Homo sapiens: one gene and its partner. The protein of the gene in region 1 interacts with the protein of each later gene in a pairwise test. Each region holds a gene or a part of one and is shown on either strand. Other genes may lie near its edges.

What was found. Proteins that work in one complex are often made in the same cells at the same time.
Region 2: the proteins of ZNF587 (region 1) and LRP2BP interact in binary tests that used the Homo sapiens proteins (3 or more experiments, as listed by UniProt).

What each region holds. Positions count from the first base shown.
Region 1 is NC_000019.10:57,852,859-57,856,358, forward strand, and holds part of ZNF587 (zinc finger protein 587), read left to right. Parts: intron 1-3,245; coding exon 3,246-3,375; intron 3,376-3,500. UniProt on the Homo sapiens protein: May be involved in transcriptional regulation.
Region 2 is NC_000004.12:185,375,425-185,378,924, reverse strand, and holds part of LRP2BP (LRP2-binding protein), read left to right. Parts: exon of another isoform or gene 1-717; 5' UTR 718-738; coding exon 739-844; exon of another isoform or gene 845-1,086; intron 1,087-1,262; exon of another isoform or gene 1,263-1,795; intron 1,796-1,906; coding exon 1,907-2,016; intron 2,017-3,198; coding exon 3,199-3,312; intron 3,313-3,500. UniProt on the Homo sapiens protein: May act as an adapter that regulates LRP2 function.

The DNA.
Region 1 (3,500 bases):
TTTTTTTTTTTTGAGACGGAGTTTCACTCTCTTGTCCAGCCTGGAGTCTAGTGGCACAATCTCAGCCCACTGCAACCTTCACCTCCTGGGCTCAAGTGATTCTCCTGCCTCAGCCTCCTGAGTAGCTGGGATTACAGGCATGTACCACCACACTCGGCTAATTTTTCTATTTTTAGTAAAGTCGGGGTTTCACCATGTTGGCCAGGCTAGTCTCAAACTCCTGACCTCAGGAGATTCGCTGGCCTCTGCCTCCCCAAGTGCTGGGATTATAGGCACGAGCCACCATGCCTTGCAGACAGCTAGATTTTCTAATGTGGATGATAGGAGCATGAAAGAGGAATCGGGCATGAGCCCAAGGTTTTTGATCTTAGCAGCTGTAACCATGCACACTGCTTCAGCTGAGATGACGTTGGTATTGACATAATATTCACTGTGGATATCCAGAGGGTTGTTTTGGCCATATGAAGAATCAGAGACCAATAAGTGGTGGCATCAAATCGATAACTAGACATACTGGATGGGGTATCTGGGAGGGTGTTGATACTGGAGACATCCAATATATGAAAGCTAATGAGTGAACTATGATTAGTTATGGGTCCATTTAGGAGGACATGCTTCAGATTATGGTGGTAAATCTTTTCAGGGGGCAGAAAGGTGTGATTACAGGCTGAGGACTGGATCTCTTACTTACGTCCTCAATTGATGTTATTGGGCTTCCTAAACACCTGAGAGGGTGTGAGTGACCATCATAACAGGACATTTAATACAGTAGAGTTTGGAAGGGGACATAGACATCCAAAGAGATAATAGAGAAGAGATAGATGCATGCAGAAGCACAGGAGTAATTCAGGGAAGATGACACTTAGGCCTGAGTTGGTGCCAAAGTTGTAACTTTTTTGTTTTTTTTTTTTTTTCAGATGGAGTTTCGCTCTTGTTGCCCAAGCTGGAGTGCAATGGTGCCATCTCGGCTCACTGCAACCTCCACCTCCTGGGTTCAAGCAATTCTCCTGCCTCAGCCTCCCAAGTAGCTAGTATTACAGGCACCTGCCACCACAGCAGGCTAATTTTTGTATTTTCGGTAGAGACAGGGTTTCACCATGCTGACCAGGCTAGTCTTGAACTCCTGACCGGGTGATCTGCCTGCCTCGGCCTCAAAGTGCTGGAATTGCAGGCGTGAGCCACTGTGCCTGGCCAGTTGTAACTATTTATCACTGTCTGGACTCATAAACATTTTGAGATGACTTTGGGAGTGCCTGGGGAGTTTCATTCAGCCTGGTGCATATGGGCAGTGAAAAATATGCTCATCTGTGATAGTAGATGTGGTTTGGTTCACAAATCCAGGGGCTGGGCTTTAAACGGCATTAGGTGGACAGAGGAGGGTTGCTACAGCTGAGGTCTCAGCTGGTGCAGCACAAAAGTGAAATAGGGCCATGGCTATCTGAAGCCATATGTGGTTCTGTGTGGCTATGGAGTCATTCCAGGAGACGTTCACAGGATGATTTGGGATTACCACTGCTATTGTAAACCATGGAAATTCTGTGTTAATATTGGATGCTATTTGTATTTGTCAAGCATAGTCTGGATGCTTATCCACATTTTGGTATAAGGCCAGAATTGAAGGCCCAATATGATGTGTCACTTTGACATCTTGTGAAAGTGGGACAACCTTAAAAGGTGTGAGTACAAATCTCATTCCCACTCTGCTCTCTTGAATAATGTATCCTAGCCTAACAGCCCGTTTTATCAAGGTGATAAGGCAGGGTTCCAGGTTGTTATATTTTGTGGTGGGTTTCAATTCCATCCCTACCAGCAGAGTTATGGAAACAAACCATTGCATATTCCCAAGGGAATCATGGGCCGTTATACCCTCTTCATCTTGTGAAATAATTTTATTTGTAGGCGCTGGGTGTGGTGGCTCACCCCTATAATCTCCTCACTTTCAGAGGCCAAGGCTGGTGGATCACTTGAGACCAGAAATTCAAGACCAGCCTGGCCAACATGGTGAAACCCCGTCTCTACTAAAAAAAAAAAATACAGGCCAGGCATGGTGGCTCAAGCCTGGAATCCCAGCACTTTGGGATGCTGAGGTGGGTGGATCAGGAAGTATGGAGATCGAGACCATCCTGGCTAACACAGTGAAACCCCGTCTCTACTAAAAAAAAAAAAATACAAAAAATTAGCCAGCTGTGGTGGTGGGCACCTGTAGTCCCAGCTACTCGGGAGGCTGAGGCAGGAGAATGGCCTGAACCTGGGAGGCAGAGCTTGCACTGAGCTGAGATCATGCTACTGCCCTCCAGCCTGGGGGACACAGCAAGACTCCGTCTCAAAAAAAAAAAATTAGCCGAGTGTAGTGGTACATGGCTGTAATCCCAGCTACTTGGGAGGCTGAGGCACAAGAATCACTTGAACCTGGGAGGCGGAGGCTGCAGTGAGCCATGATTGTGTTCCTGCACTCCAGCCTGGGTGGCAGAGCTAGACTATGTCTCAAAAAAATCCCCCAAAAATAAACTTTTACTTCTGGGGATGCCAGAGAGGGGCTGAAGGTTGGGGAAACTCTGGTGGGGGTGGCCATGGGCATGTGTCTGTACAGTATAAAGAATGATATATATTTAATGAGAGCGAGGTTGTCTGATGGACTCAGGCAGCTGCCTTGGGCTTTACGTGACCTTGGATATCGCTGTTCAGAAGGGGGTGTGGGCTTTTTTTGTTTTTTTTTTTTTTGAGATGGTGTCTCGCTCTGTTGGCCAGGGTGGAGTGCAGTGGTGTGATCTCGGCTCACTACAAACCCCGCCTCCTGGGTTCACGCCATTCTCCGGCCTCAGCCTCCCGAGTAGCTGGGACTACAGGTGCCCACCACCATGCCCGGCTAATTTTTTGTATTTTTAGTAGAGACAGGGTTTCACCATGTTAACCAGCATAGTCTCTATCCCCTGACTGCAAGATCTGCCCGAATCAGTGTCCCAAAGTGCTGGGATTACAGGCGTGAGCCACCGCACCCAGCCCAGAAGGGAGTGGACCTTTTTATGTCAGGACCTCAGCATGGATACCTATTTGTCCACCTACTTCTTGTTGCTGATGGCATTTGACCAGCAGGCCCATGAAGAGACAAAGGCACCAGTGGATGTGGTTTCAACTCCGTGTTGGGGACCTTGGGAGGAGGATGGGCAAGGGTGGGTGTGTGGGAGAGGTGGGTTGTGGTACCTCAGCAGAGGGGCTGCTTGTGGTTTCATCTGTCACTATCATAGCAGGGCACTGTGACCTTTGAAGATGTGGCTGTGAACTTTTCCCAGGAGGAGTGGTGTCTTCTTAGTGAGGCTCAGAGGTGCTTGTACCGTGATGTGATGCTAGAGAACCTGGCTCTCATATCCTCGCTGGGTAAGTTGCTCACGCTCACCTTTGTGACCTGAGCTAGTGTTACTGTTCCCCTGTTTTTCATTGACAGGACTGTCTTTCTCACCTAAGGAGCCTGGACACAGGTTCCTTCTGCACTTCTCTGTGTA
Region 2 (3,500 bases), on another chromosome or scaffold:
ATCAGGAACCTTTGCTGGAAGCTTGTTTCTGATTGGTGAAAGTAAGCCATAACAGTGGAATGCCAAGGAGTAAATACAAAAGTGTAGCAACAACTGAGTTTGCTGTCTCACTACCCTCAGCCTAGGCCAACCTGGACTCCTTCACCCCAAATGAGGTGACCGCTACATTTTATATGAAGACACTGATTTACCATTCAACTGTGATCCATCTTATAACATGGCAATCCAATACAGACAGGAAGATAAAACTCAACAACAGCTAAAATAAAGTGTATTCCCAGGTAAAATAGACAAGTGCTTTAATTTGAAATGGATTCGTCCGATGAGTGTCAGTTACAAGGGCAGAGAAGGTACCAGTGCAGAAGAGCTCTGACTGTGGGCAGTGTCACCAGGTCCCACTAAGTGGCAACACTTGTGCTGGGTGACTTGACCCATCTTGATGTATAAACCCATAGCCAGACAGGACGTGCAAACAGGTCTCATGGTGAATGCGATGCTGTGGAAAATGACATGGAGAATGGCTGTCTCTCAGCTAGGGAGGAGGGTCTTGGTGTCCTAGTAAAGAATGTTCACGTCCTGGAGTTGGTGGTTGGTGTTCTATCTAGGCGATGAGAGAAGGATGCTTTTCCTAATGAGCACCTGGTGGGAATAGAGTCTCTCTTTGCACTTCGCTGGAGGAAGAAATTTCTACCACTTATTTTTTCTTCTTGCTTATAGAATACACATTGCAGAAAAAGGATGAAGTTGACCAGTGAAAAGTTGCCCAAGAACCCCTTTTATGCCTCTGTATCTCAGTATGCTGCTAAAAACCAAAAATTTTTCCAGTGGAAAAAGGAAAAGACTGGTACAAATCCTGATATTTAAGCTTCCCTTGGAAAACACTTTAACAGTTCATTTTGCATGCTAGAGCAAACGAGACAAGAAATAATGTGTTTTATTGATTTCAAGGAAGTGGTTAATCATTAGTCCTTTTGAGTTTTCCCGCAAGAATCTGTGAAATTGCTCATTTATCTGGTAGCAAATCGTCAGTGAGGTCTCACAGATAGTTAGGTCTTGATTTTACTCTCAGGACTTAAGGACATGCTTCTAGAAAACAGAAAGCAGATGTCACGTTTGTTAAAGAGAACAATGCCAGGCTTGACTTGCAATTATTATTTAAATACCTTATCTTCCCTAAAGTCTTAAAAATGTTATATTAGGGATGGGTTGCTCATTTGGTTAGAGGAACTCTCATTAAGGCTCAAATTAAGAATTTAACTCACCTCTCCAGAGAGCTTTGCCCATTGAAGACAAACCAATGCATAGACTTATACCCAGCCCTGCACTGTTAGGGCTCTACTTGGCCATGAGCAGGGTTAGTGTGAAACCAATCAACAAGTATTGTTTGTTGTTGTTGTTGTTGTTTTGAGATGGAGTTTCGCTCTTGTTGCCCAGGCTTGAGTGCAGTGATGCAATCTTGGCTCACCGCAGCCTCCGCCTCCTGGGGTCAAGCTATTCTCCTGCCTGAGTCTCCCGAGTAGCTGGGATTATAGGCATGCACCACCACGCCCTGCTAATTTTGCATTTTTAGTAGAGACGGGGTTTCTCCATGTTGGTCAGGCTAGTCTTGAACTCCCAAACTCAGGTGATCCACCCGCCTCGGCCTCCCAGAGTGCTGAGATTTACAGGCGTGAGCCACCGCGCCCGGCCAGTATTGCTTTATTACACAAGGCACAGTGTTAGGGCCTGTGACCATGACGTTTTTTCAGGTAATATTTCTTCCTTGAGCTAAGGAGGCCAGTTGTAGGAATGAGCACTAGAAAGCAAGAATGTCAACAGTGTTAGATGGATTTTATATGATTCATTACTTCAAGAGAGAAAATTCATATTGTGTGGTTGATGGAATTCCTTACCTTTTTAAAATCAGATTACACCCATGCTAATTTGGTGGATAAGGCATTGCAGCTCTTGAAGGAAAGAATACTGAAAGGAGACACTCTGGCATATTTCCTACGAGGTCAACTATATTTTGAAGAGGTATCATTTTTTGTTTATTCGTTTTCATTTCCTGTAATTCTGTTGTTAGATCCTCAGACAAAAATTTCATGTAGAGTTTCTTACTGTGTTATACTAGGGAAATTCTGTCCAATTACATCGACTATGGCTGTGGCTTTAACAGTAGGATACAGTGCTGCCAGCTTGAGGAGCTACCTGACTTTTCTTCATAAAATCCATGTCATGAAAGCCATTTATGGGAGTCGTTTTAGTATAAAATCCATTTCACACTATAGATTAAAAATCAAATTTTTATATTTTTGCTCAAAATATTTAATAATACAAATTATATTATCAGGCCGGGTGCGGTGGCTCACGCCTGTAATCCCAGTACTTCGGGAGGCCGAGGCAGGTGGATCACCTGAGGTCAGGAGTTGTAGACCAGCCTGGCCAACATGGCTACACCCCATCTGTACTAAAAATACAAAAAAAAAAAAAAAAAAAAAAGTAGCTGGGCATGGTGGCACACATCTGTAATCCCAGCTACTTGGGAGGCTGAGGCAGAGAATCGCTTGAACCCAGGAGGCAGAGGTTGCAGTGAGCTGAGATCGTGCCACTGCACTCCAGCCTGGGCCACAGAGCGAGACTCCCTCTCAAAAAAAAGTATGTTTGTATTACCAGGTATCTTCATATTAATAATAATTGAAGCCTTGATTTTTATCTAGTACTTAGGGGAAGCTTTAGTTGTTCCTGGATAGCATAGGAGGAAATCGCCCTCTTTCTCCACATCTTGTTGGGGTGGCCTGGGAAGTAGACTGAGGAATGGCTATGCCAGCTGTCCCCTCAACTTCAGTAATGTAGTTTCGGTTTTTCATTGACTTCCCCGGGAAGACTTGAAAAGGGACTGACTGTCTTTCACCATTTGTTGACTATTTGGGCAGCTGTTCACCTATATCCCACTTACTCTCTCACTTTTCGATGGCACCTTCGTCTATCCTGGCAACAAATGTTTGCTGAGGGCTCATCGTGCGCCTGTTACTCTGAGGATGGCAGAGCACCATGGCTGAGAGCATGCTTCCTCAGCGTGGGGCATGGGTTCAGATATGGCTGCATTGCTTGTTAACTGTGTGTTTAACTTGGGCACAAACACTTGACCACTTGGTGCCTTTGGGATTACTTTAAGATCATAATAAAAATAATTAAATATCTTCTGGGTGCTTCTAGGGATGGTATGAAGAAGCATTAGAACAGTTTGAAGAAATCAAGGAGAAAGACCATCAAGCAACTTACCAGCTAGGAGTGATGTACTATGATGGGCTGGGGACCACTCTAGACGCTGTAAGTTAATGTCTTGGTCACAGTGGTTAAGATTTCATTGTCAGTGGATTATTGGACACAATTAAAATTATTTATATTTTAATACATATATATATACATATATATATATATATATATATATATATTTTTTTTTTTTTTTTTTTTTTTTTTTTTTTTTGAGACGGAGTCTCGCTCTGTCGCCCAGGCTG